2 separate regions of the Homo sapiens genome follow, and region 1 is linked to region 2. A link means that fine-mapping ties the variant in region 2 to the expression of a gene that starts in the linked region. Tissue or cell type: sun-exposed skin. Region 2 holds a variant in brackets; the other region holds the start of a gene. All regions are shown on one strand. Distances are from middle to middle.

Region 1 (15,526 bases), 330 kb after region 2:
TGTGGTTTGTTACATTCGTAACTAAAGAGAATGTGATATTTCAGTTACAGGTAAGTGGAAGTCAAGAAGCAATTTTTTTTTCTATCAAATGTCACAGATTCCCCTCAATTCTTATAGAACACCAAAGTAGGCTGGGCATGGTGGCTCCCGCCTATAATCCCAGCACTTTGTGAGGCCAAGGCAGGAGGCTCGCTTGAGCCCCCGAGTTCGGGACCAGCTTGGCAAACATGGTGAGACCCATCTCTTTGTAAAAAGTAAAAGTAGAGGTTCCTCTTCAAAGACTTTCCTCCCCATCTAATTAGGAATAAATAGTAACTTCTCTTAGAAGCAAAATTTATTCAGACCTGTGCTCCTAAATATTTGCCCTGGCATGCTTATACTGGTCCAAGCAAGCATTAGGTCATAGCCTGTTCCTCTTCCTTATTTAAAAGTGTTTTTACCTTTCTCAGCATTCCACAAGTTACTTCCTCCTTCCTTTGTTCTCCTCTACCTTTGCCTCTTTTAAAAAGTTCTAAGTTGCTAGCCAATCGGGACAAATACAGAATGTGAGGTCCCGTTCCAGCCAATGGAAACCAGACACAGCAGTAGGATGGATGCGTCAGGTTATAAATGACCCTGTTTCCTTTGTTCAGTGTACTCTCGTGGCAAAACTGCTGGCGAGTGTACCCTTTCTACGGAAGTAAAAATGGCCTTACTAAATATATTAAATTTATGTTCAAGTGCTATTTCTTTATGGCACCAAGGAACAAGCATTCCAAACATCTCCAAAAAAATTGAAAAATTAGCCAGGCATGGTGGCACATGCCTCTAGTCTCAGCTACTTCGGAGGCTGAGGTGGGGGGATCACTTGAACGTGAGAGGTTGAGGCTGCAGTGAGTCGAGATCATGCCACTGCACCACTGCACTCCAGCCTGGGCAGCAGAATGAGACCTTGTCTCAAAAAACAAACAAACAAACAAATAAAAAATCACCAAGGTAAAAAGTATCCTTATAGAGATTTTTTAAAAATCTAACCTCTGAAAACCACATAGAACAAATTAGTCCCCTTAAAAACTCTCCTGCATCTCCTAAATTAAATCTTCTAATCCAAAAATCACAGCGTTTCCAGAATTTTCAGTAATCTTATCATTTTCTTCTGCTTGAGCAAGAATTTGTTAATTTCCAAGGGGAAGCAATGAGCCCAGAAAGTCAGCGTGCATTCCAGGTTGTTATGAACAGGCCATCCCAGGGGAATGACAGATAAATTTACAGGAACACCTTGGCATTCTCTAATAATAAATAAATAAATTTTCTTCTACTTGGAAAAACAAAACCTATCAAAATTGTTGATTTAGTATTTTAATGTCTAAGTCGTAAATTTTTAAAAAATTAATTGATTTTTCATGACATTTTTATTTTCTCACTGAAATGATCATTTTAAACATTTAGGAGTCTGTAGCATAAGGGATAAATAACACAAGACAAAAAGAAAAAAAACAAAAAGTTCCCAGGACAAAAGACTGGGTTTGTCATTTGTTTAGCCTATGGTAGATGTGTGTGTTTAGAATTTTTTGAAGACTGTGTCTTTCAGCAGATAAGCAGCAGTCTCTGATCCTAGCTCTAAATTAGCTGCAGCTGGATCTCAATAGATTCAGATCAGAAATAGTTCCTTAAGCATCAGTTTTGTGCTGAGAAATAAAAAGAAGAACAAGAAATAGCCTCTGCCCTCAGGGGAGCTTGAAAGTTAGTGAAAGATGTAAACATGTTACAAAAATAATTATACAAGGAAGACTAAAACCATATTAAACTCCAGTGGAAAAAATATCTGAAATGATGTAAAGAAAAAATTTGAGCTATTACAATGAAAAGACTTGTGTTGTCAAATGGCTTTGTTAGTAAGGCCAAAACAATGCCATAGATTTTCGGAGGATCCTGGTTATAATACCCAACAAACACCACTGTAATCATTAGGTTATTCCTGGTCTTTCCTACTAGTATTGAGCTCTTTAAGGTACCTTAACTGTCTTCTTCACTATTATGCCCTATAATCTTGAACACTGCTTTATGCACATAGTATCTTTTCAGTACTTGTAAGTGAATGAAGGCACAACATACTAGAGGAAGTGTGGAAGAGTTAAGATTGAAACAGTTCTTTTTTTTTTTTTTTTTTGAGGTGGAGTTTCGCTCCTGTTGCCCAGGCTGGAGTGCAGTGGCGCGATCTCAGCTCACTGCAACCTCCACCTCCCAGGTTCAAGCCATTCTCCTGCCACAGCCTCCCAAGTAGCTGGGATTACAGGCGTGCACCACCATGCCCGGCTAATTTTGTATTTTTAGTAGAGACGGGATTTCACCATGTTGGCCAGGCTGGTCTCAAACTCCTGACCTCAAGTGATCCACCCACCTCGGCCTCCCAAAATGCTGGGATTACAGGCGTGAGCCACTGAGCCCTGCCAGATTGAAATGATTCTACAGCATGCTTGACTGTGTCACTTTTTGAAAGCTCTAAGTCTTAGTAATGTCATCTGTAAATGAGGATAATAACACTACTAGCTAAGATTTTTGTAAGGATTAGATGATACCTATAAAATGTTTAGCAAATAATCATTCTTTAACTAACAACTGTCAGCCATTTCTCAGAGGGAAGCACGTAGAATTGATGTTTACAGCTGGAATGAAGCCCAGTGAGCCACTTCCGCCTTCTCATTGTAAAGAGTAAACTCAAGAGAGAGTGTAGACTTTCCCCAAGGATGTGAAAAATGGAAACAGGTGCAAACCCAGGTCTCCTGAGTTTCTTAGGTTAAATTTTTTTTTTCATAATTACTAGATAACTCTCTTCTAGGTCAAAAAAAGTCTTAATACTATTAGACCCTCTGACAGAAAGTGATGCTTTTTGCCTGTTTCCTTCAAAGTTTACATTCTCTGAGTTCATAGAAATGACATTGTAAGTGTATTTTCCATACCATTGGTCAAGTTGAAGTCTTAAATACGTATGTTTGAAGACACATATTTCTGCATTGCTCCAAGTTTTCATAAGGAACCATGAAAGGTGGTCTCTGCAGGCCAGGGGATGGTGCCTCCAGACACTGAGCACGCTCTTAGCAGAGAAGTTAAAGTTTACACAGATCTATGTTGCTCTCAAGTAGTGGGCCTGAGGGTGAATATTTTTCATCTGTTTTTCGTCTATTAGATGGATGATAAACATCTGATCAAATCCACTCCTGTGGATCTGAAACTAAATCAATCAATATTCCATCATGATTGAAATCATATATGTAAATTCAATCATTTAATGATGGGCTAGTGCTATAGAAGATGTTTGCTGTTATTGTTTTTGCATATGTGAATAACTGGCAGGAATTAAATGCAAGAATGTGTGAAATAAACACAAGAATGTATGTGAAATACAGGAATTAAACACAAGAATGTATGTGAAAATATAATGTAAAGGACTATACTAGTAAAAGCAACCATACTGTTGATGATTAATTGTTATTATCTTATAATTATACAAAGAGACTCAATAGATATCTGTTGAATGCATGCCTGTAGGACTGACTGACTGAAGGAATATGTTCTCAGCTATCAGATGTTACGGTTACAAGAAATTCTCAGTAAAACTTGCAGAAGATAAACTCCTGAGACTGTGGTGAAGACTGAATTAAATAATCTGTGAGATGTGTCTACTCTAATCTGGCACATGGTATGCATTCAACAAATGTTAGAACAATCTTAATTTTTAAACATTATCAATAAGAGAAAAGTAAAGATCGTTTGAAATGCTGATGAGATTTAAATTCCTAGCAAAGGCAGAGAAATCTCATTACAGAGCTGCTGGATTTTTATTAACTCTAAGTACAATGTCACACATCCATCAACTTTCCCAAAACGTAGCTACCATAATTAGAAAATACAATGCATTATCCAGGGTTCGTGTTATAATTGCATAAAAGCAGAGAGAAGCAGCTAGTTTTCCATAGATGATAAGATTAGCTTCCTCTCAGCCTTTACAGTCACACCTATAGAGCCAGGTTGAATAATATTTTTAATGCAGACAATGTTTGTTCTAGACGAAGTCAACTTAGCATTTCATAGGAGCTGGTCAAGTGTTCCCCTGCTTGAATAGGCTCAAAGGGTAAAGCTAATTAAAAGAAAGGGAAATTGAGTTCACTGTGAAATATGCTGCTGCTTTTCTGATTTTGCCAGGTAGCACCAATTCTGGAGGCCAAAATAGAAACAAACCCTTCTGGATGGTGTGCCTTTACTAAGACTCTAGAGTTGGCTCTCCAAAGGGAAGAGGGCACTTCAAGTTGGAGGGAGATTTTTTAGCCATTTGGCGACCGGAGTCTTCCTCATGGTCAGGGGGAGGTATCAAATCACTTTTTCAGAGTTTGCATGCTGCCCTCTCCTGGCCTGTATAGACAGGAGTGTTACAGTACATCAAATGCATTTATTTTCCCCCCACACCTGTGTGGGATATACCTAAGAACACAAGAGAGTTTATTTAAAATATTCAGGATGTCTCATCAAAAATGTATACTTGAAGCTAATCAAAAATCTATATCTGAAGGTAATTAGAGGAAATACATTCATTTTCATTTTCCTTTGGCTCCAGGATTTATACTGAAGCATGTCAATCTTTATATCATGTCACTTTATACCCTTGTGCTTCCACCCGCTCACGTTCCATCCCCTTAACATCCATGTGGCTCTGGGACTCTGTTCTACAAATCAGTGCGCCAACACCGTCTGGGTCCCATCAATGTGCTGGCCACTTAAAGACATCTTTCCAACTGGAAGTGGTGGTGATGGGAAATCTGCTCAAGTCATTGGTCAGTGTTGAGTCTGAGGACCACATTTTAGCCTGACATGTGATCAAAATTAATTCTAGACATTATTAGGCCTATTATACCTAATATTATTAGAAACAAAAGAACTATCAAGAAGCAGCTAATCCAAGAAGAAGATGGCACCATAGGTCTAATTTTTAATTGAACACCTTGTCCTTCAAAACAATGTCTTGTGTGACCCATTTAAGCCGAGTGCTGGGCACGTTTTCCCTGGTTGAAATAATTCTTTTTTGTCCGTAGATATTTGAAGGACCCTGATACTGAGAACATGCCTGCAACCTGGCACGTTGCACAGGGGCAATTGCTGTAGCAACACTGAAGTACAAAAGTGGCTGAACTAATCTGTTGAGTGCCTGTGCCTCTGCAGTCTCTCAGTGTCTGCCCTTGACCCAGACAGGCCAATCCTCTCCATATCAATAAGAACTGAGAGTCTAATACCATTCCTTTGCATTAGAAAAAGAGATGTTTACTTTAAAGAGATTTAAAGGCATGTACCTTGTTTAAACTTTACCAAACTTATAACTCGAGGGTATGTAAAGCTCTGGCTGGCTCTACTAAGATTCATAGAGAATGAACTGTTGATTACCTCTCTCGGTGAAGAATGATAGCAAAAAACAATGAATAATCACAGCATTGTTTATATTTATCTTTGAAAAGCCATCAGTGTCTCCTAGTCTATACAAAGTGAATATAATCCGTCTCACACTCACAAAGTTGCTACCAACACACCCAACATTGCTTTAGAGTTAGAAAGATAAGACAGAAATAGGTCCCAACTTATTGCAGCTATTTTATTTATAAAAGATTGACAAATGCTCACAATCATACAAAACAACTCTTTACCAATAGAATGTAGTTGGGTCGATTAACTTATATTTATTTGCACAGATCAGTTCTTTACAGTTTCTTTCTGATGTAAAAGGAAAAAAAATTTATCTATAAAGTTAAAATGCCTTCTCCCAAATATAATATTCACTTGCCATGTCTATACTTTGACACGATTTCAAAAAGCACCCAGTTAAATCATTCAGATCAGTCGATGGGCAAAAACTATGAAGTTTTCCTGACTCTATGGTAGAGCTAAGCATGCATTTCCTTTAATGACAGAAAGAACATGTTCATCTGATAAGAAACAAAAAACAAACAAACAAAAAAAGGTCGATATAAATTCTCCACTGTGATATACAACACAAATACCTTTCTTATAACTTTCTTATCTTCCTTGGTCGGGCACATGTCTTGGGACAAAGGCTACCTTGAAAGCTAAGCACGGCTGAATGGTGAGTCGATTGCGAATTATCAGTGAATGGTTTGGATATGATCGACTAAGACTCCACTGGGAAGAGTGCTGTTTAGACGAAAGGTAAGGTATTTGATTGCCCCTGCACCTGCTGCAGAGCCATTCTCTGGCTGTACTGGAGTCCCAATCTGTTCCACTGCAGAAAAAGCGCTTTTCATAGGGATTCAGAGCCACATGAATACCAGCCAGCCCTTGAAGACTGCAAAGCAAGACCAATTTTTTAACTGACTTCTTGCAGTCCCCTCTGGCTTTTCCCAGGAAAGACTGAACTCATTAAGCAATGCTAATTTAATCACAAGTCATCAAGGGGTGGGGAGTTATATAACTATCTTTAAAATTTCAAATCAAACATGATAAAATCTCAGGAAATAGATTTTTTTAACAAAACCCACACCTCAAAATAAAAAAAAAAAAGAAATAGAAGTTTATGAGTTTTAGGATCAAATAAAATAAAATCAAACATCAATATTTTCTTACAACTATCACATCTACTAGATAGTTCCAATTCATGACTTTTTAATGTAGTAATATGTGAGATCCTGGAACTGAACGTGCCTGGCGTGCAGAATACAAATGCATTTTTAAACTCGTAAGACAATGTAGAAATAAGTCAGGTACACAGGAAGGATCACTGACAATCACGTTAAAAAATAACTACCTCCCTTCTCTCTTCTCCTTCAACCACAGCGTAGTGATAATAGTGATATTTCCCTCATGAGGCGGGTGCACCTTGGCCATATGCTTTAAAAAATCAAAACTCTGCCGAAGTCCGCTGTGGTTCCTATTCCTGTAGGGAGGATATTAACCTGGTAGGTAGGTGGGAGAGGTTCGTAGCCCGCTTTCTAACAATTGGATGGTGTTTGCCTCGCTATAGTCATGATTAGAATGGCGGTCACCAAGAGGTATTTATTGGTGGGATGACAACATATTGGTATTGACGTTATTTAAAAGAGAAAGAAAGAGCGATCACGGTCAAGTTTGAAGGTCCTTATGTTACACCCACGCATAATTCAATAGGTGAATAAACCTTGTGGCCCCCAGACACACGCCAACAGCTTGAATTACCCGGGGTGAAACCGGCGAGACGTCCACTCAGGGCTTTCGGTCCTGACCAGCCACGGAACAAACAACGTCAATTCATTCTAAGTGCCTGGTGAAGGTAGAAATCAGAAACCGTGTCTGTGTCACGTTAGTCGTGACAAGCTGCGTACCTGCAATGACGTGATGGAAGCCTCCTCCTCGGGTCCCTTCTCTCTCTCTCTCTCCCTCTCCCTCTGCCTTCTCTGAGTTCTCTAGTCCACAGCGGGGTCTAAGTTTGGTCTCCCGCCGCCGCTTTCAGTTCGACCGCAGCCAGACTGCAGCAGACGCCCATAAGAGAAGCGCGCCGGCTGAGGGTGCAGGAGAGGCGAGAGCGCGCCCCGCGCCGCGCGGTCCCAGGCTGGCTGCTCCTGCAGATGTGAAAGGAGCCCGGAGACTTAGCTCTGAATCCTCTCGGCGCTGCATGGGGATATTATCAGAGTCTGGGATTTCTATTGGCTCTGAACACCAAACAAATCACACCAGCCACCCCCCTTCTCTGTTTCACTCAGCGCTTGTTTCTCATCTAACCCACAAACATTGCAGCCACACCACACACTTCAGTCGCTTGCAATGTTTCTCTTTTCCTCCTTCCAGTCAGTGGATTTACAACCCTGTGGTCAGCTCTAACATTTTTTTTAGCAGACTTCCAATTCTAACCTTCTTGTTTATGTAGAGAAATTCTCCCTCCATCCCCTAAACCAGAAAAAAACAAAAAACAAAAAAAAAACACTCATTCCCTTCAGATCTTCTTCCTTTTGCTGATGGGTTTCCAATGTGAAGAATGTAGAAAGCCTGTGTGTGATATGTCTGACATTCTCATACACGTGCGCTTACACACACACACACACACACACACACACACACACCAGGCTCCTTTTGTTTGCAGTAACTGAGGCCAGTGAAATAAAAAGCAAGCTGAGCCTAATAACCTAAGTGAGAGCTTAACTAATAAAATCTTGAATGAATTCAGTGCAAAACACCCATTGCTTGAATTTGTTTTCTGTTCCAAATAGTACTTTGGTCATTATTATCCTGATTTTTGTTTATTGAATGCAGAGGTTTCTAATGCAAATCAGACTCTTCAACATCCAGAGAACATAAAACAATGACGCCAGACCAATTCTTGTGCTCCATCGGCTTGGTGCGTTATACCAGAAGCGTATTGTGACGCCTAAGTGCTTGCTCTTTTCATTATTTTTTGAACTTCTCACCACTGATCATCTCAGGACTGAGACTCCCTTAGTGTGATTCACCAGCCAAAGACGACTATTCAGACTCTGCTGATAGAGGTTCCTGGATGAAAATTTTTTATCTGTATGTGTCAATAGAGATAAACCTTTGGCCCCTTGGCAGGGAAAGGGCCCAAGAAAAATCTGAGATCTTACAAACTTGGCTGGGGAAATTCAGAATAAAATAAAGTTTCAGTGTGTCTTATAAAACAGACCCTCCCTTAGACTTTTCCCCAAAATCAATTTCACTGGTGCTTATGGAAATTTTAATGACAGTTATTCTTGACAAGAAGCCATTGCTTCTGAAATCTCTGAGCTCTGTTTTGATTTTTGACTTGAATTTTTTTTTTGCAGTGTTATCCCTTTTGTATGCTATTTGGTATTTGATATTCTAGTTCCAACTCAACTCACAGCACATTGGGTTGCAAATTCACAGGAAATAACAATTAGTTCTTGAAATATACTATCACCAAACAGACTACCTGCCTTCTTTCTTACGTGGGCACATTACAGGAATTGTGAAATGCAGCCTTATTCTCAGAATGGGCCTGCCTGAAATCAGCTGAAATTGACAAAGGAAATACAAAACAAAACCACGTTTAGCAGTTGGTTCCTGCTAACCACAGTCTAACCTCAAATGGCATATCCTTATTGCTTCAACAACTCCAGTTCATTCCCTTTCTTTAGGTAGGCAGCTAAAAACAAAATACTGTCATAAATCTTTGAAAGTGTAGAATGTATTTCTTCTAAAGATCTCAACAGTCTTCGAAAAAAAAAGGAGTTATAGGTATGATATTCCAGATTTTCCAGGTGGAGAAACAGAGTGGAGGAATGATAAAGTGACTTGCTGAAGGCAGACAGCAAATAGAGCTGGGAGAGTGGATGACTGCCCTGTTTGTTCATACAAACTGTTTGACTCAAAGGAAAGCAAAGGGTTAACACAGCTGACTCTCATTCCTGCCTGCCTTTGCACAGAAGAGCTAACAATTCATGAAATCATCTGTCCAACTTGGTAAATAGTCATTTATGTTATTTCAGAACGGGTCATGTTATTTTCAGATAAGTTACCAATAATTTGCCTTCGAATTGCCTTTCTAGAAAAGAGAGAAACAGTTACTGAGAAAACCAAGTAGATCATTGTATTTTGTGCTTGTTATTTTCAGGGCTCATTATAGCTCTTCATAGCACTGAAAAGACAGTGTAAGTGAAATCATGGGTGACTTAAAGTCACAGATCTATCTTAAACTTCATTTTAGATAATAATTCAAGCCCTCTGTCCTTCAGTTAATGAAGAGCAAAACTGGATGATTTAAAGGACATCTATACCCCATCAGTTGTGTGGTTAAGGGAAAATAAATCGTCAGTGTTTATTATTCTATATTTAGTCTTTTCGTCATTTTGCTACCTTTAAAAGAGTTTTTCAAAGACATTTCTTAAATCCTTTATAAATGACACAGACATCCGTAATAATAAAAACGCTTGCATCTCAGCATGCACAGCAGCGGACAGCCGGGCAGATTCATGACAGAACAATCATTTTATTTTCCACTTATTCAGCCACATCAGGATCATCCTGCTTAGTTCAGTGTGGCACTTTTTACAGGAGATATTCACAAATTGGCATGTATCCAAAGGAGTTGATAAGATGATGATTCTGAATATTATAATTTATAAGAGATGCAAGAGAGAATCAGGCATCTTGGAGTAGGAACTGAGGTGAAAATGATAACATTTTCAAACAGTAAAGGTAAAAGAGGAAATATGTTTATTATTCAGATAATGCTTCAAATGTATTGTCATTTTTATAAACATTTTCTTTCTTGATTTTTTTAAACAACTCTATGAGGAATGTAAGATAAATGCTACTAGGCTAATTTTAGAGATTAAAAGAGTTTGTATAGTAAAGTCACCCTGATGTAGTCACAGTTACGATGCCAGAGGATGGGAATAAGTTGAAGTGGACCCGAAACCCAGTGCTGTTCTGGAGAGAAAATAAGGGTAGGCAAAAATCAGGATAGCAAAAGACTTCTCAAAATTAAAGCTTTCGGAAATTGAAAGAATTTCCTGGCAAAGTGATGATTTGGAGATTTTGATATAGGTCAATGAAGTGGTCAAGAAAAGTACTCACAGTCATTTGCAGAGATTATGAAGGGATTGTTATAAAGGTCAGACTAAGTAACCTAGGGTTTACTTCAGCTCGAAATCATCTTTGATGCTATTATTGGCTTTTACTATATTACAGAATAATTTACAATTTTATTGAATAATTTTCATAGTATGCCATTAAATTTTTTAAAAGATTATGATTACGATCTAAGTATATTTCTGAACTATAGATGACCGCAGATGGTCTTTTACCCTTCTTTTGACATATCTGTGTGTTCTATGATGAATATGTATAATTTGTAATAAGAAAAAAAGTAAAAAAAAAAAAAAAAAGAAAAAGTAGAAGAGCTTATAATTCTTCCTCTACTATACAAAGATACAAGATTTCCATATGACTAGTTTGCCGAAGACTGACATTGCATTCCCAGTGTGATAAGCGTAAGATCACATTCTTGATCTTGTCTGTACCTATTCATGTGTTTTCTTTCTAGCCTAGGTTGGACGCCATTCTAATGCTAATGTTTTCCCCTTGGTTATCTCTTTATTTATCTTAATAGCTTCCCTTTAACTTATGGATTTATTGATAAATCCGTACGTGCTTGTTTTGTCCTTTTATAGCTATAATTATTTCTTAGATTATCATAGTTTACTTTTTAAATTGTTAAAGTGTTTTTGATGCACAAAGTTTGTAAATTCTTCAATTTACTGATTATTCAATATTTATTCCTCCACCATATAAGAAACCTTTATTTTCTAGAAAGTCATTAACTTTGTTTATTAATACTGTATGTTTACATCAAAACCTCAAAATGAAATCTATATTTATGATTCACTGATACATATGAATCTATGCTCTTGCGGTTCACAAATTTCAACTGTTCACATGTATTAAATAACATTTATCTCTCTTGTGTCATGGTGATTCTACCCAGAATATATGAGTGATTTATAAGAGTTTTATAGCAAAATATATAGCTCTCACTGTGTCGCAGAATAAACTCCTTGTCTATGAGAGTGCCATCTGTCATGTTTGTGTCACCCCAGTGGAGCAGAGAACACAACCCACAGATGAGCTGGGGAAATTAATAGGAAAGGGAATGACCATGTATTCAGCTCAATCCCTATATTTTCCCTTAAGACCCAGGGAGCAGGTGGTTGTGGGTTTTTTGATTCATTAGCCCATGCTTATTAGATGTCAGCAAGGCCTCTGCGCCGTACTCTTACTTCTGAGATGTGGATGGGTAGAGGTGAAGAGGGCAAAATGAGAGTGAAGAGAAGGCAGAGCCACCTTTGACCTGCATGTGCTTATGACATCATATAAGCGGTGAACGCAGGAGATGGTTAAACTAAGATTCAGATTGACAAATGTAGCTGAAGGAGTGGCCAGAATGGCTCCATCATGGCACCTGCCACTTCCTTAACTCTTTCCCAGACCCGATAGCCCAGGTGAAGAAGGAGACCTAGATAGTAGTATAGATAGCTGTAGAAGTATCACATTCATCTGCCCCTACAGCTACAGACACCAGACTAGGAGAGCATGCTGGACTCAAAGGGAGCCAATCTGCCACCCATGCAGAGATAATGGGAGGTGGCTGTCCATCAGATTTCTCCTTTTGATGAGCTTGAACTAGGGTTATCTCTCTATCATCCATCTATCTATCTATCTATCTATCTATCTATCTATCTATCTATCTCTCTCTCTATCTGTAGCTAACTTTGTCATTTGATAGCAATAACATAAGCTTAAAGAGTCAGAAAACCAAGCCAGATGTGGTGACTCATGTCTGTAATCCCAGCACTTTGGGAGGCCAAGGCGGATGGATCACAAGGTCAAGAGTTCAAGACCAGCCTGGCCAAGATGGTGAAACCCCTTCTCTACTAAAAAGACAAAAATTAGCCAGTGGTGGCACGCACCTGTAATCCCAGCTACTTGGGAGGCTGAGGCAAGAGAATTGCTTGAACTCAGGAGGTGGAGGTTGCAGTGAGCCGAGATTGCACCACTGCACTCCAGAGTGAGACTCCGTCTCAAAAAAAAAAAAAAAAAAGTCAGAAAATCAGAGAAGAGAGAGTATACTAGTTATGGTCATGGTTAGAATAGGTGTCTATGAAGATCTAATAGACCTCTAATGTATGTCTTGCGTATGAGCAAGAAAAGATGAGGTCCAGTTGTTTAATCTTTCTGAGCTTCCACTGGCCCTGCCTGTATTTCCTTTGTTTCTGTGTGTATCCATACACCAAATCTCTAGTGTTTGAGGTCATCTGTGTGACGTTCTCCTCCTTGAAGAGTACATAAGGAAAAAAGCCCAATAGAAAATCAAAGCAGGTACCATAATTTAAGAAGTTTGAAACTTAGCCTCAGGCTAAGTTTCAGATGATGAACACTATTGCACCGTAGTTTGGTGCCTGGACTTCGATGTCAACATTGGGTTGAATCCTGAGTCACTTACTGCTTGGATATCCTTGCTTTTTTTGTTTTGTTTTGTTTTGTTTTTGGAGAGGGAGTCTCGTTCTGTCGCCCAGGCTGGAGTGCAGTGGCGCGATCTCGGCTCACTAAAACCTCCGCTTCCCGGGTTCAAGTGGTTCTCCTGCCTCAGCCTCCCGAGTAACTGGGACTACAGGCACACACCGCCATGCCTGGCTAATTTTTTGTATTTTAGTAGAGACAGGGTTTCACTGTGTTGCCCAGGCTGGTCTCGAACTCATGAGCTCAGGCAATCTGCCCACCTTGGCCTCCCAAAGTGTTAGGATTACAGGCACGAGCCACCATGCCTGGCCTCCTTGCTTTTTTTCTGGGGTTTCAGTTTTTGCATATATAAAATAAAGTTTACGTGACAATGATGTAAGTTCTAGGAGGATTAAATTAGATTTTTGTTTAGAAGGATTACACAGTGTCTGGCCTGGAGAAAATACTTTATAAAATTCAGGATCCAAGCTCAATAGAGCAGGCATTTCACATGCCAGGAATAGCAAAGGCTACTGAAGCTCAGTAACCAGCGTTTGAATGTGGAGGGGAGAATCTATGTGTTCAATATGGTTTGGGGGAGTGTCCTCTCTGGGATCGTTTTGGGCTCCCATAGAGAAGTATACTGATTTGGCTTTTAGAAATAAGCCCAAATCATTCAGAGCTATTCCTCACCAGGGAGACTAAACTGGCTATTTCCATTTTAGAGTACCATTAAAGCAATGTGATATATGAAAAGTCTCTAAGCTCTCTAAGGGCAGAAACTGTATCTTATTTGAGTTTTTCTAACCAGTGCTTACCACTATTCTTGGTACAGAGCTGGCACTCAGTAAAAGTTAGTTGAATAACAATTTATAAACTAATTTGTTAAAAAATTAACTACTGGGTGTGGTGGCTCATGCCTGTAATCCCAACACTTTGGGAAGTCAAGGTGGGTGGATCACATGAGGTCAGGAGTTCGAGACCAGCCTGGCCAACATGGTAAAACCCTGTCTCTACCAAAAATACAAAAATTAGCCAAGTGTGGTGGCGGGCGCCTCTGATCCCAACAATTTGAGAGGCTGAGGCAGGAGAATCACTTGAACCCAGGAGGTGGAGTTTGCAGTGAGCTGAGATCACATCACTGCACTCCAGCCTGGGCGACAGAGTGAGACTCCGTCTCAAAAAAACAAAAAAAAATTAACTGATTGATGAATTTATTAAAGGAGAGATGACTTCCTTATGTGGATTGTAAACTGGCACAGAACATAATTCTGAAGAAGGAATCCCAGTCTGTTTCATCCAATAGAAATATTGTTTGAATTAAATGTTTGATGGTGGTTGATTGTATTATTGTCCAAAATATTCACTTCCCTGCCCACAGGACCCATTCCTGAGAAAGGATAATATAGGCCTACTCCCCTGACTGAGGCTTGGCACTTTGGCTTATTGTAGCCATTAGCATATGTCCAAAAGTTCTGTGTGTGCTTCCAAAACAAAGCTTTAAAAGCCATTGTGTGGTCTACCACTTCTCTTTTTTCTCTTCCAGAAAACCGATGAGGTCCGTGGTTCCCTGAATAAGAATGGCATGAAGTAGAGCCACAGGTGATGTGAGGCAGACTCATCATATGGGTGAGAGATAAAATCTAGCTGTCATAAGCCACAGGGATTTGGGGTCATTTCTTGACTGTAACGTAATGCAACCTAAACTGACAGATGCTATGCGTTTCTACAGTCACTTTTTTGGAGACCAGAACTCTTATTCATAGATAAGATCCAGCATGCTTGTTAACAGATACATGTACATTTATCTTAGTTATACTGGATATTGTATAATTGTGTATACTATGTCATGAAATTCCCATCCAAAAAACTAACAAAAAATGTTTCAGTGTTGGCTCCTGGCTTCCTTTCATTCCCAGTTTGTCTTCACCCCAGTGCCTATTCTCTGAATATAAAGTTCTTCAGAACCCAGGAATCACGTGGTGACTATGACCAAAGCTCATTTCCCAACAAGTGGCCACAGAGGACAAGGTGTGGAGGACACTGGAAGGAGCCCATGACTGACGGGCGTGTTGCCTGATGCTACAGGAGATCCATTGATCGCATCTCAAAGCAGTTTCTAGAGAAGCAGGAAGAATTTAAAATGCTCTGGAGAAATTATTTTCACCATTTGTGCTTTTAAAGAATAGGACGTATTAATTTTTCATAAATTCTTGTTAACCATGGCAATACACAATGCCATTATTTCTTAAACTCTGGTTCAGGTTATTTACAAAATAGGTCAGGTCACCCCTTTCCAGCCCAGAGCCAGAATTAAAATAAAACAATCCTCACTCCAGCTTCTGTTCTCCCCCGCACACATTCCTGCCGTCTGGAAGGACCCGAAGCAAACGTTCCTGATATATTTGGAAGGGAACAAAAGTTAGTACGGAACAGCATTTGACCTCTGTCTTGTATTAATGTGAATCTTAGGCTGCCCTGCACGCACTTCCGAAAGCGACATATCTCCCTGCAGGATCAGTGACAGGGAGACAGCTGGCCG
Region 2 (15,526 bases):
TTTGGGGCTCCTGGCCTCACTGCTGCAGAGTGTCTGGAATGAGCATTTGTAGGGTCAGTTGTCATTATCTTGGTCACGATCTTTGGAGTGCTGTATTCCCATCACCTGCTGCACATAGCACAAGGTCTGGGTGTCACAAAGACATGACGTGACTCTTCTAGCATCTGTGATACTCTTGAGTAGTAATTTCAGAATACTTAGTGAAAGGCTCGAAGTGTTGAAATACGATGAAGTCTGGGGAGTTAACTTTTAGCCTCGACTTTAACTCATTTATTCTGTGCCAAAGAGGAATTTGGGGGAGAGGTTGAGTTTTCCTTTGTGGTAGCCTGGCAGGTGAGGACAAATCCACTTACTCTCCTCTTTCCTCAGCTAGAAGAGACGAGGAATGGAAGGAGATTTGATATTCCTTAGGAATTTTATTAATAGGAAATTGCTTCTTCTTTAACAATGAGGATCATAACTTCAGCTGAGATTAACTTTTAAGGGCTTTATTAAACTGTTTTAGCCACTAGCAACGATTTCCCTTACACAGATACATTTAGATTGACTTTGCACATCTTGAAAATAAGAAACAAATGAAAATACCAGAGTATCTTTATATGTATAAGTTGTGAAATTTGAAGTCTGCATTACTTCTTATTGGTTCAGTTTTCATGGGATTATTTATGTATAGGAGCAGCCAAGGAAAAGACCATAGCAGATTTTTGTAATGATGGAATGAGATTCCTGGCCTGTCAAGCCAGTAGGTGTGGGACTATGGAGAAAGTTCCTAAATTTTAGTCCAGTTATTTGAATGGAATCTTGAAGAGACATTTACTATTCATAGAGCAACCTGAGCTCGAACTGTAATTTTGTTCTAGTTGGGCAGTGGGGGAAGAGAAGAGACTTGAAACTAGTGTTATATGATGGACACGTCAGTGCTGAAAATTCACGGTGCCTGAGGTAGGTTAAACCTTCCTCCAACCAATGGTTTCCATGCAAGCTTTTTAACACAGTGATGCCTATCCTATATTTTTACTATTTGCACATATTACGAGCGATTGAAGGATGTTAGGAAGCTCTGACAATAAAAATGGTTTTCTTTAATGAAAAAAAAATTCTGATACCGTGAGAAGAGGACAGATACATCTTGCTCAATTAAATCAAAATGTGTGGGACACCTCATTTCTGCAGTTGCAGAAATGCTGAAAGTCACTGGATACTTAAAGCAATGAAGGAGGAAGAGGTTGGGGTTGGGAAAAGCAAAACTGATAATCTCCTTTGTGAAGACATCACTGTAAGAAGCAGGTGGTACTTACTGAACTCTGGAGAGAATGGAAAGTGTGAGGACAGCACAGTAAATAGAAGGAAAATTCCCTTAGCAGTCCACTTTCCAGGCACCAGTCACCTCTGGAACTTTAATTAGAACTCAAAAATGTGAGTGGAGGAATTAGAACAGAGGCCTTTCTATCTTATATTTGAAAAGTATTTATTTTACTTAGAAGCAACTTTTTATTAATTAAAAGCACATCAGATAAATCCTAATATTTGAAACACCTCCCCATATTTAACTAATTCCTCATTCTTCTAGACAAGGAAACATTAAAGTAATTTTTACACATCAACATATACTTCAGAAGAGAAAAAAGAAACCTTCATTAACTGAACAAATAACAAAATATGACTCAACATACACAAAAACCAGTGTATCATATTTTTGCATATATTAACTACATGTTGATGTAAATAGGAACAAAATTATTCCAAAGGGAGGGTGATAAATATGTGGGTTTTAGATTTTTCATGTTTTTAAACATATTGGAAATGTAATGAAATACAAGTTGATTAAGGTGATCTCTGTAGTACAGTGGAAGGTATTACCCTAACATGTCTAATTTTGGTATGTGAGCTCTGATCTTCTCAGTCATATGTTACAAATTCACAACTGAGTTTTCTTTTTTTTATGAATTTTTAATTTTTAGTGACCAAACTTCTTAGTTCTTCCCCCTACCTCAGCATGTCTGCCAATATATAAATGTTTACATATACTAAAGAAGTTGAATATTTAAATGAAGTTTTAGGTGAACTATTTTAAAAAGGAAAATTTTTTCCCTTAAAATTGTGATTATAATCATTGTGTTTATAATTCAAGCTTTTCTGTTTTAGGTTTCTTTCAGTGAGACATGTTTGTGTAGCACTACACTGAAAAAAGATGATTCTTATTGGTATGAAAGTTATTTTGGCATAAGACATTTTAGATTTCTGATAGATTCTGGACTTATGGAGCAATATATATGCTTACATTCAAAATAAAGTTTATCACTGTGCCCCTTTTAGAGCATGTGTTAGAAAACAGTGGCAAAATGTGATCCCAGAGTTAGGGTTCTATTTCCAGGGGAACTCACTAAGCCCTCTTTTACAAGAGCATAAATGTTTACCTAAGCAAGAAGGTGAAATCTGTTATGCCCAATAAAGGACATTTTGCAGTGCTGGTTTACGGAAAACATTCAACAGACAGTGGATGTTTTACATAAAGTACAGTGCGTTGTTTGAAACTCTTTGCTCATCTATACACTATGCTTAAAATAAACACTATCTGGGAATATACCCGTCTTTTTTCTACCTCCCTTATTCCACACCCTAGATTTTGTCACCTGCCAAAGTCAAATAAATCTTATCTAAACAGTTGAGATAAGCGCCGAGTCGTACCCAGTGTGGTCAAATCAACAAACCTCTCCAAAAACAGAAATGAAATACAATATCGCTAGATTAAACAGTCTACAATGGTAATCATGTTTGCATTTAAAGATTTTATTCCAAAAGGATCACAGTCTTGGTATCCATTTTTTTCCCTCCTGCCTAGACAAGACGGCGACATACTGACTCAAACAAAATGCATTTGTTCTCTAACAATTTAACTTGTACAGCTCTTATAAACAAGGCCCATAGGTGTATGAAGCCTACCGACTTAATCAGTAACTTATGTCGTTAACCTTGTATAAGCAAGTATGCTTGAGATGTACCAGTGTTGGATTGTGTATGGGATTTAGTTTTTTCTTGCAGGAAAGCCTTTCTTTATGTAGCCTGAGTGCAAAGTCTATGGCATTCTGGGATTTTATTGTCTGTATCTTACAGTAAAGCTCCATCATGCTAAACTGTTCAAAAAGAGAAGATAGTACAAATTAAAGTGATTTCTAAATTATAGGATATTATAAAAAATGCAGTTTTCTTCCTTCCTAGGACATATGGTATTTTAACTGTTTGATAACAAGGTGTAAACTCTACTAGGGCAGGAACCGTGTCTGTCTGGTTTATGCTGTATCCTCAGGGCGGACAAGAGTACCTAGCTCAGAATTAGAATTCTGAATATTTGTTCAATGAATCAATGATGTTTTCCAGAAGATATTCTGTCTTCTCTGTGGATGAATAAAAATATTTTGTAATTATTACATTAATTTCTGATATTTAAAAGCATGTCTCTCGAGAGTACATTTTTGTCTTACAGTTTTTAATAAATGGTCTCCTTTCAATGTCGTACCATTTAATTAGCAAAATTTAAAATACGCAATAAAGGAAGGACAAATGACACAATATCACTCATTTTTTGGTAATATCTCTAAGGTACTGTATTTGTGCATTTCTTACTGTAGAGCAATTTATACACTGACTGCTGGTTTGAAAATAACCCATTTTTCCATTATTCTTTAAGCAGATCTTCATTTACTTTGGTTCATGAAATTGGGAATTAGCCCAGTTGTATATAGATGCGTGATTTGAATATACTGTCCTTTTATTTTTAAGGTCCAAACAATAATACGAAACTTATAGTCTTATTTTCTAATTTATATTTTGCTTTATGAGAGCAAATATATCTACAAAGGTATATGTGCTATTTAGACATTGACCGAAAACTGAAGAACCTTTCATTTTAGAGTGCCTGCTATAACAAGGACTGTTTTCCACACAATAGAGGAGTTACCTCTAATCTTTATAATATCCATTTAAGGGGATAATAACATTACCACTGATATGTCTATTTCCCATGTGAATAAACCAAAGCTCATAGAGCTTACCAAGTCTCTCCAAGAGATGCACAGCTGGTTAGTCACAGAGCCCTGTTTTTAGTTCAGGTCTATCTAAATCCAAAACACAAGGTCTAAGTCTCATGTAATTCTGGAGAAAACCACAACTTTTGAGTTATTATATTGGTGAGTTAAGACTTCTCAGTAAACATGTTACTGTTTAAACTAGAGCTTTTAATCAGAAGAGAGTAATAAAATTTAGAAGTCTTACAAATACAAGGAATAGAACGCCACTATTTAAATTTGGGATCAAAAGAAGAATGCTGTTGGTATATGTGCCATTTAACTGGCCTTTATCATGGTCTTTAGATAATCCAGAATTACTTGAAATATTACTCACGAGCGTGTGTGCAGGGTTTCAGGTGTATGTTAAGAATGCCTGGCAGCACGTCTTCTGGCAAGATGCCCACGTTTGTGTGCATACTCAAAGGCCCCAGGTTTCCAGGTGCCCAAGCATCTTAGTGGTGAGATGCAGAAAGAATGCAAGTAGTATTTCCTTTCATCTTATCATCGAGTGTAAAATGTTCCGATGAATATGGTAGCAAGTGTCTTCCTTCCTTTGAAATATGAGTTTTCATCAGCTGTTGGATATGCTCACGTAACTAAGCCAAGCAAAATCCAACACAAATTTAAAAGTTGCTTGGCTACCTCTTTAGAAAATTTTTGTTATGTAATATACATTTTGGAAGTTTTTAATGTAACTGCCCAGGTGTGCAGATTTTCAGCTGGAGATTGATGCATCAGCATTCTATTCCTTAGAAAACAATGCTGGGTGTGACTCTTGACTCCTTTCACATCCAGTTGCACAGTGACATGCACCTCCCGAAGGTTTCTATGCTTTATTGAGTTTCAAATAAAGATTGAGGGATGATAGTTCTAGGCATTTCTGCCAAGCTGTGTTTTTCTTTTTTTTCTTCTTCCTTCTTACATCTTCTCAGCAGATTAATTAGAACAGTAATTGAAATAAATAAAAATTAAGGCAGCCCTGAAAATAAAAATGAGCCTTTTGTATCCACCACAGATTATAGATGCAGAGGAGGAAAAGGAGGCTTCTTCCCCTAGTAATGTCTGTCTGTTGCTCTTTTCTTTGCAGTTCCTCTCCTCATTACTATTTAGAGGCTCATGCTTGTATTACCATTTGCAGCAGGGATTTTTGCCTATGCCAGTATTTATTTGGCTTTCACTTTCTCAGGCATTTCGGCCTTTGTGCATTTCTGGAGCCAATAAGGCAAATGTGTGAGTGGTGGCATCCTTTCTTAAGGTTACCTATTATGACTTTTCCCTGGAGGTTCAGCAATGACTTTTGTTTTTCACATTACACACTTCTTCAGTTGTCTGCTATATGCAGGACACTCTGGCATGATACAATAATGTCTAAGACAAGATCCCTGCTATTAGGCTCTTAAAAATCTTCTTGGAGCGACCAACCACATACTTTTATACAATAGAGGGAGTAGCTGGAGTGTATCAGATGGCTTTTATTAATGTTAAAGGGTGGAATCCAAAGGTAGGGAAAGTCATGAGCCTTGGTATTTATGGAGTGTTTTGGAGATTACTTAGACTGGAGCTTGAAATTGCTATTTTGTTAGAAACAGCAGTTCGTCCACATTTAGAGCCATACTTTCCAGTTTCCCTTTCCTTCCAGGTGACCATAGGAAACTGATCCGGTCAGTGAGATGTAAGTAGAAGTCTCCTAAAAATTTATGATCCATCGGCATTGTGCATTTCTTCTTGTTGCTTTCCTCTTTCCTCCTTCGTCTGGCCTGGAATGTGAAAGTGATGGCTGGTACAGTAGCAGCAATTGTTCCAAGTGAGGAAAAGGAAAAGGCATGTGAAGACCACTTAAAAATTTTGGGCCCTAACATATTTTATCCCCTGAATCAATGGCAACCTACCTTAGCTTTGTTCAAGTCTCTATCTACTCAGATATTCTTTTACTTACTGCTGAAAACAATTTTTTAACTGATTCAAATGTATTTAGCACTTTGGCCATATTGTCATGTGGGTAATTGTCAGGATTTCATTCATATTTCAAATAATCTTCATCACTATATTCTAACTAGATGCCCATATCACTCCCTAATATGAGCCAATCTTTTAAGCTGGGGGGGAGGATTGAGTTAGAAACAAACAGTCAGGAATGACTGACATTTTCCCCCTCATCTAGACCCTGTGTTTTCATTTTACTTCCTAATAAACTCAAAGATATTGGAATTCAGTTTTTATTTCTCTTTAATTCCACTAGAATACAGATGATAGCTTCTATAAAAGCACTTTCCCTTCCCCAGCTGTCCACTCTTGGAATTCTTTGTCCATCTACACAACTTTTCCTCAACTTTATATTGTTTTGTCTTTTAACACCTAAAGACAAACACAAACTTAGCTAGGTAAGAAGAGGGAAATATTTCTACTATTAGATGAAGGATTATAAAAGAAAGGCAGAGAAACTTTCTAAGTTGTAATCTGTCTTCTAGCTTCAGAGTCCCTCAAATTTTTAAGGACCTTTTCTGGGTCCTTAAAAACGTAAAAACTAATAGGCAATGTAGTGAGTAAGTTCTGTGAACAGAAGGATCACCAGGGACACAGCTTCTGGCTGGGCTAGAGTGTGAACCAAGTGCTTTATATCTGGCAGGCATATGGTCAGAGGGAGTACGTGATTCTATGGTTTTTGTTAATCTTAACTCGCTGGGATCTACTCTCAGGAACTGGTCAACCTTTTCTTTCCTGTTATTTGGATGTTGGCCTTCCTAAATTTGTCTAAATTTCTTGGCTTTTTCCTCTTCGTTTCCTTTTTGATCTACTTTTGGGAAATTCTCACATGTATTTCCCAAATCTTCTATTGGGTTTTTCTGTTACCCTGTTTTTTGTTTGAAGAAACATTTTGTTCAATTAGGAGG[G/T]TGTTGCAAGAATTGCAGGCAATAATCGGGAATGTCTGAGAATGGGGTGGTAGGGGTGGGTGTGGTGAGGTGAAGTCATATTCTGGATGTGTTTGGAATGTGAAGCCAACACGATTCATGATGTGTTGGATGTGGAAGGTGAGGGGAAGGGAGGAATTAAGGACAGTTCCTCTGAACACCAAGCAGATGGAGGCTCCGTCATGTAAGACAGAAGAACATGTATAGAGTGTGCTGTCTGTTAGACACCCAAGTGGTGATGCTGAGAAGGCTGTTGGTTCTATAAGTGAGGAGTTCAGGAAGGAGGTCGGAAGCTGGAGATGAAAGTGCTGGAGTATTTCAAGCCCACCGTGAGACTGGGCGAGACCACCAAGGCGGTGAGTGTAGATAGAGGTAAGAAAGGGTGGCAGTAGTGAGCCCTAGGACATTCCAAAAATGAGAGGTTAGGGAGAGAAAGAGCCAGCAGGGGAGACTGAGGAATGGGGAACATTAGAAGTAGGAGGAAGAGGAAGAGAGAGTGGTATCCTGGAAGCTAGGATAAATGTTTAGCACGTGTATCGGAAGGAATTTATAACTGTGTCACATGCTGCCAAGGGTTGAGAAATGTGCATTTGGATTTCACAAGATCTAAAACACTGGTGACTCAGTAATCAGAGCAAAGACTTGATGAGTGGGTTTAGGAAGTGATGGGCAGAGAAGAAGGTGGGGACAACAAGTATTGACGACACTTTGTAGGAGTTGGAAGAGTTTTACTGCTTTATTTTTTTTTCCTTTTTTTCCCCCGCTCTGGTTTCTAACATCCCTTGTAGAGGCTTCCCATAGATGATTTGATCCTTGGCTGTCTGTTCTTGCTTAAGTCTAAAAGGTGATGAGAAGCCCTGAGTCTTCATGTTGGGCTCTTGGACTTTGAGTTCAGTGTAGCATTTTCGGTGTGGGTTTTTTGTCGGGTATTCACCCATGTCTTTATCTTTTGGTCTTTTTTCCTGGGATGGAGAGATTTCCTGGAGACTTCCCATTTCTGGCTTGGGGTGTAAAGGCCTGTCTGGCAGTGTTCTGGACCCTAAATTGGGGGAGGAGGGCTGAATGGAGGTATGGAGGCTTTTGTATTCAACATGCAGTACTCCACATGGTCCCTGTGTATTCAGCATAGCAACCTATCCTACAATTGTGATTGCTGTGTCTTTGTCCAGAGACTTAGATTTAATTTCTCAAGAAAATCAACCTGATGAAGTTGGGAAGGACTTTTTCAGAATGAGCATGTAACTGACTGACTGGCAGCATTCATCCAGTGCTCCTTGTTTCTGATATTCCTTGCTTTACCCTCAGTTGGACAAGTGCCTGTTGCCAGTTCCTTGGCCTTCAGGGTTGGTGCTCAGTTTTCTCAGTGAAAGTTATGGTTTTATCATTTTAAGGTCTACGAAACTGAGTAGAGCTGGCTTCCACATTTTGTTGCTGTCATCTCATCTTCTTTCTTCCAGTCCTTATGGGTTTACTTTTTTAAATATGTTTTTACTATAGCTTTAGTGAAACTTCAGGAGAGAACAAAATCAAATGTGTGTACTTCCTGTGCCATCTTAATCAGAGATGCTTCCCAGCAGTACGTATTAATACATATCACAGTGCAAATGGAATGAAGCAATCTGAATGTTAGGTGATGCTATTAAGATTTAGACCATCTATTTAGTAGTCGTTCACTTTCAAACTCTGTCACTTTGAGGATCTTTTACACCTGACAACGCAGTTCTTTCTGCTGTTTGCACAAGCTCTACCTTGTGCTTTTATTGTGGTGTAATTGTTGTGTAGTTATTTGTCGATGTGTCTTTCTACTTCACTATACTGTCAGCTCTTCTAGATGGGGGAGTGTGTATAACTCCAGATTCCCAAAATGTTTTGTAGGACATTTACAAAAGAGATAACAAATACTGTCAGATACATTTCAATTACGCATCCCCAAAATGTAAAAGTTTCTATTTCACTGAAATATACAGTGAAACAAAAATTAACTGCTTACATGTCCTCGTCGTCCTGATTTTAAAGTCGAAATGACATGCTCCCTGCAGTTCCTCAGAGAGATCTCTTACAAAATGTAGTTTCCTGGTAGCTAGAGTAAGATGACAAACCTGACTCTTAAATGAGAGGATGCTTCTGATCTCTGCTACATAAGATGAGTGTCTGCTCAAACAAAGGTCTTTGCTTCTCAGCAGCTTGCAAAGCTAACTTCATCAAAGCTTTTCCTGTGGCTTCTGTATTTTAAATGGGGTAAAGATGCTTTCTTCAAGCCCTTATACTCTGCCAGTGAAAAGAGGGCATGAACCGTAAATATGGGCTGATTTGTACTCATTTTGTGTTTAAGCTTCTGCTGACTCTACTTCTCTTTCCATGTACTTTAACCCAAATTAGTGTTAATGGCTTCCCTCTGGTTACTTGTTTAGTCTTCTATGTTACTATCAGTACAACTGAAACTGTCATTTTTCTTTTTGCTGAGAATGTTTTCAACCTGGTTCATCTGAAACCTCTCAATCTAAGATACTGATTTGGAGAGAGATTAAAAAAAACATTTTCCATTATAGGAATGTGAAATGGGCCGTAATAATAATCACAACAACCAACATTTTCTGAGTGTTTGCTTTGTGCGTGGCACTGCATTTGACTTTTATTATTTAATCTCCTGCAAGAACTCTGTAGGGCAGGTCCTCTTCTTATTAGGTCCATTCTGCAGATGAGGAACTTGAGACTCTCTGGGTTATGCAGATAATAAGTTGTGTGGTCACTGTGCCCCACTGCCTTCCAGTGCCATCAGGTGGCAATGTGACATGACATATTATCTTTGTGTTCTGTATTTTTGAGCTATGATGTCAGCTAGAGTGAAGTTAGTTATTTATGAAAGGACAATCAGAGTGATCTCAAAGAAAGGTCAGTTTATCCAGTAAAATTAAAGGCAGAGTTGATTTTCAGGAATTGCTAACCTCAGCCTGTTTTAGCCTTTCAGCATTCGAGAAAGATGTTTTTCCAAGTCTTTTGTGTACTGGGTTCTTCTAGATAGAGAAAGGATACAACAGTGAATGAAGCATGACCATGTAATTATGGAGGGAAGGGTCTGTCCATATTGTCTCACACGTCTCTGTATATCTACAGAACGTATCTCATATGATCTCTATTTATAGAAATGATGAGGTTTAGCTGATTTGATAGGTTATGCCTAAACCAGAAGCCAGCCTTCCTGACTAGTGCACTTTTTCTTTCCACTGAATCATGATGCTTCTCCATGTCTTTTGTCAACCTAGAGCCTAATAGGAGAATAAAAACATTCGAATTAATGAAATTAACACAAGGTAGAGACCCATAGAGCAACACAAGTTGGAAGCTGAAGTCCAAGGAACAGAGAGCCATGGGTTAGCAATGTGTTGTGATGGGCAGCCCCTCAGATGGTCCCTGGAGATCCCCACCTTCTGAGACTCACGGCCCTGTGATATTCCCTAGCCCTTATATGTGGGCTACACTCACGACTCACACTGAATAGAATAGAACAGAACAGGGGTGATGGGATGTCACTTCCAAAATAAGGTTACAAAGAGAAGGAGGCCCTGTCTCGTATGCCCTTTCTGTCTCACTCTAAGGGAAGCCAACTACCTTGAGAGTTGTCTATGAAGAAGCCCATCTGGCAAGAAACTGAGTCAGACTTCCAGCCAACCAGTAGTGAGATGCTGAGGCCCTCAGCCTGAGGAACTGAATCCTGCCAACAGCCTGTGAGTAAGGCTGGAAACAGATCTTCCTGCAGAGCCTTCAGATGAGACCGTAGCCCCCGCCAACACTGTGATTGCAGTCTTATGGGAGACCTTGAGGCAAAGGCCCCTAGCTGAGCTGCACCTGGATTTGTGACCCACAGAACGTGTGAGATAATCCATGTGTGCTCTGTAAGCCCCTAAGCTTTGGTGTAACTTGCCCTGCAGAAATGAATAACACACTTGGTAATAAACACTGTGAGATTTTCTAGTTTGGGGCATCTTTACCACCAGTTTAGCAGGTCACACAGGAAAGATTAAAGTAGGTGACTGCAGTGGCTGGGATAAGTGTTCATGGCTTATGAAAGGAAGGGGCCATCAAGCACAGCCCTGAGAGACTGCTCCAGTCCTGTCTCATCCAACAGATCCCTGATTTTAAAAAATATCAATGTAAGGCATGTACTAACACTGTTCCATAGCTTAAAATGTTGCATTCAACAAGAGTAATCCTATCATATTGAATTATACAAATAGGTTGGGCACCGTGGCTCATGCCTGCAATCTCAGCACTTTGGAAGCCTGAGGTGGGAGGATCACTTGAGGCCAGGAGTTCAAGACCGGCCTGGGCAACATAGCAAGACCTTTTTCTCTACAAAAAAATTAAAAAAATAGAAATATTATCTGGGCATGGTGGCATGTACCTGTTGTCCCCGCCACATGGAGAGGCTGAGATGAGAAGATTGCTTGAACCCAGGAGTCTGAGGCTGCAGTGAGCTATGATCATACCACTGCACCCTAGCATGGGTGACAGAGTGAGACCCTGTCACTCTGTCTCTCTCTAAAAAAAAGGGATTACACAAATAAAGTGAACTACTTAATCTGGCTATTCAAAATATGTGAAAGATCAACAAATTTGTCTAATAATGTTTTGTTGAAGTGCTTTGTTTTAAATGAGTTCCTTTTAAGGCACATTTAAAATAAGTCCTTTCCCTTCTGTGCAGTTCTTTGAAAGTATAGAGACAGGATTCATTTTATCATGTAAACATTCATACAGATAGATTACTTTGCTCTCTAGCCTGTGGGTAATTCAACATTTGTAGTAAGTTAGAATAAGAAGCATGTACCACATTTCTGGTGCTGACAAAGGCAGCCACGGAGGAGAACACGTTAATAGCAAAGACCAAGTGTCCAAGGATAGACACCTGCCTGCGCACAGTCAAGAGTGGGACTGTTTCTTATGTTGAGTCTATAATGCTTGGTTGTTTTGAATTGCTTTATTCTTTTATTTTTTTAATGTAATGCAGTCATCGATCAAAATCTTAAAATCAAAAGAAAACAGATTTCTTTTTCTGTTTGGACATTTTGAGACATTTTAAATATCTTAGGTTAAATTGACGATTGGACTTCCAAAACAGGCCATTTCATTTTTCATTTTTTAACAGCATGCTTTAACAACAATGACATTGGATCTTAGCGAGCTCATACCGGTGGAGCAAGTTCGTACCGGAGGAGTTCATGATGAGAATAGCTATTGTGAAATTAACTTTTAACTATTGAACGCAAATGTTTAGTCCTGAACCTAGTTTTAATTTAGCACCTAGTTTTAATCTAATTTCTGAACCAATGTGTTTACAGGTAACATACACCTTAAAATTAATCACACCCATTATTCCAAGCCTTTCTGAATTATTTTTCTACTATATAATTACTTATTTTCCCCACATGATAAGCATATGCTATAAACGAAAGTTATCCCACTTGATAAAGTCTCAGAGAAGTTTAGTGTCTTGATCAAAGACACACAGCCATTTGGTATGAAAGCCTGAAAGATTACTATGTTCTACTCTCTATCTAGACATTGGCATTTGATAAAATCGTAGACAAGAATTGTTGTCTATTTTGGTCTGGAGTGATGTCTGTTTGTTTGGTTTTTTTTTTTTGTTTTTTTTTTTTTTTGAGACAGAGTCTGGCTCTGTCACCCAGGCTGGAGTACAGAGGCATGATCTTGGCTCACGTAGATCTTGGCCTAGGTAGATCTAGGCCCTCTACCTCCCGGGTTCAAGTGATTATCCTGCCTTAGCCTCCCGAGTAGCTGGGATTACAGGCATGCACCACCACACCTGGCTAATTTTTGTATTTTTAGTAGAGACAGGATTTCACCATGTTGTCCAGGCTGGTCTCGAATTCTGGGCCTCAGGTGATCCGCCTGCCTTGGCCTCCCAGAGTGCTGGAATTACAGGCGTGAGCCACCACATCCAGCTGGAGTGATTAGTAACACGTGGTCATTTGTAGGTTGTTTAAAGGAAGTGGTAAATATCTCCGTTGTTTTAATCCTGGAAATGTAGCATATTTGACAAATAAGTGAATAATCTTTTAATGTGCAAAAAAGGTCTATAGTTCCTCTCAACACCTTTCTCCTTGAACCCACTCACATAAAAACAGAACAGATGCTTCCTGGTTAAATTGATTTATATATATTTTTGAGAAAGTGATTAAAACTGCATTGTAGACCTGCAGGGGGTGGGTGGGGGTGGGAATTGTAAAGAGTCGCAGACAAGGATGGGTGTTACTCAGCATCTTAAAGCAGCAAGGAGGAAATGAGTGTGAGATATCTGACCTCCAATCTGAAATGTAATCACATTAACACCTTGCTGAATATTAGAGAATAAAGTAATCTGAACTAAACATTTATCACTGAATATTCTTTTAAATTTTGGATTTATCTGAAATCTAGTCTTCTGCTTAATCATTTAAATGCTAATAAACAAGACAGAGTATAATGAAGAAGCCCAGGTAGTTCTGTACCAGGCTCTCTTGTTTCACTCTAATGGTTTATCATTCAGGTAAAGGTTCCATCCCTCAGTAGATGCAGTTGGAATGGATTTTTTGTTTTTCTTTTTTTTGGATACACGGGGAAGCTAAAACACAAATTGAAAAAAAGTCAACTCGTTTAACCTTGGGCTTCATAGCAAGGCTCACTTGAGCAGGAAGGATGTTCTAATAGTTGAATTTATGTGAAAAGTTGGCATGGGGAGGTAACATTAACCAACTACATGTCAGACCCTTTTACTTGTTATTGCCTCTAAGCCCCACAAAAACCCCAAACCAAAACTTGGCTAATATTTTCCATTATTTCCTTGCCCCTGCCCCATAAAGGAACTGAAACTTATAAAAAGTAACTTACTTGAAGTAATGCAGCAGCAAATAAAAATTTAAATTTAAACTTAGTTTAGTTCGATTCCATGTTCTATGTTTGTTCCACATCAGGAAACAGCATCTTGTAAAAATAATATTCCCTTTGGAGGAACTGTCACCTTGATATAATTTCAATACTCAGGTTCTTTCCTCCGAAACAAGGCTGAAATTTTGGACTTGGAACCAAGAAATTTCTGAGGAGTTTTTTCTTTGAATCTTTTTGCCACCGAAATAAATAAATACATAAATAAGTAAGTAGGTAAGTACATAAGTAAATAAGTAAAAAATAAAAAATGCATTCAGTCATTCTTAGCATGATCTAGAACTCTGATCATGGTATTCTCTTCTCTGTGCATTACCAGTTGTCTGCAGACTTTCAAGGCTGGGCTATTCAGCATATTCCCACCCAAATAGCTCCAACTTCAAATCATTATTACTCAAGTAACTGTTAACACTTCTAGTATACTAGTGTAATCCCTGATGTATAGGAAACACCTCACATTTGTTGAATACATTTGGGAATGCTTATTTCCTTGATTTTAGAATTCCATCCATTGAAAATGTACCATTGACCAAATCACAGATTTTAAGGAAGGGAGAAATGGAAGATGCTACTAAACGTCTAGTAACATAGACATTTTGATCTAAGTCCTGATTTCTGAAATGTTAGCATATGCTTTTTAAACTGGGGAGGAAGTATGGCACTTCGATAATTGTAATCTTTCCCAAATTGCTTCTTTTACCTTTATTTCCTGTCTAGAATTTCTATCACTGCATCCATTCATCTGTCAGTATTTAATCTTTCTTTCTTTTTGGCTACAAAAGCATGATTAGATTTTGCCCTGAAAACTGCTCGTTCCCATTTGAATTGTGTTAATTTCTCTCAGGTCAACTAGGGGGAAGTTATATGGAGAAACAGTAACAGTGCTGCTTTCCAGTGAGATTTTCTGTGGATGAGTAAAAAATGAGATTTCATGGGTTAGGACCCTTTGAGAACTTGTTTAGGAGCACATAACATGTATTAAGATATTCATTATTAAGAATATTCTTTCGATCTCATGTATATGACATTGCATGAGATAGAAAGATGAGAAACCTCAGGATATTCACAAGTTTTATGTGGGGAAAACTTGTGGGTATAATAGTATGGTTTAAAATGATGGATAAAGTCAAAGGACAACTGTGTACTTTATGAGCTTTGAATTGATCATGAATGATTTTATTGTGTTTCTTTGCCTTGTTCTGGGGATGAAATCTGACACCAAGTTGACCCCTTGCATTTCCTTTATAGTTTTCTTATCATGTAGAGAATTACTGGATTATTAGCTAGCTGATGAATTCCAAAATCAGAAACCTTTGGATTCACTGTAAGATATTCTTGAAGAGCTAGACTCTGCACAAATTGAAAGAAGATAATTCCATACATAAATTTACTGTTTTTACTTGGGTTTTGTGCCTTTTCTTACATATTATCACAGCAAAATTATTAGCTAATCCTTTTTAATTAATTTTTGAAATATAGTCAAAGGTATTTGGACTGTGCCTTTACTACTTTGAAACATTAAAGTTCACGATATTTTTGCCTTATATGGTCTAATGAATAAGATTTGTCTGAGACTCTTACTCTTAGATATGTATTTCACACCTAATTTTT

Direction of the effects. Alleles are on the strand shown, and positions count from the first base shown. SD is a standard deviation of normalised expression in the study named.
As copies of G replace T in region 2, the expression in sun-exposed skin of the gene that starts at base 7,609 in region 1 goes up (small effect, 0.30 SD a copy in GTEx).

Evidence for each region. PIP is the estimated chance that this variant, and not a neighbour inherited with it, causes the effect.
Region 1: it holds the start of GREM2, and the variant in region 2 is fine-mapped to the expression of GREM2 in sun-exposed skin (GTEx, PIP 0.93).

What each region holds. Positions count from the first base shown.
Region 1 is chr1:240,604,547-240,620,072 of GRCh38, forward strand. GREM2 (gremlin 2, DAN family BMP antagonist) reads right to left here and starts at 7,609. Exons shown (of 2, transcript NM_022469.4): 1 at 7,338-7,609. RefSeq lists an enhancer at 2,313-2,812.
Region 2 is chr1:240,278,176-240,293,701 of GRCh38, forward strand. All of the region lies in intron 7 of FMN2 (formin 2), which reads left to right. Among named protein-coding and RNA genes, the nearest start is that of FMN2, 190 kb to the left of the region's middle. The variant G/T (reference allele first, on the strand shown) is at 6,959.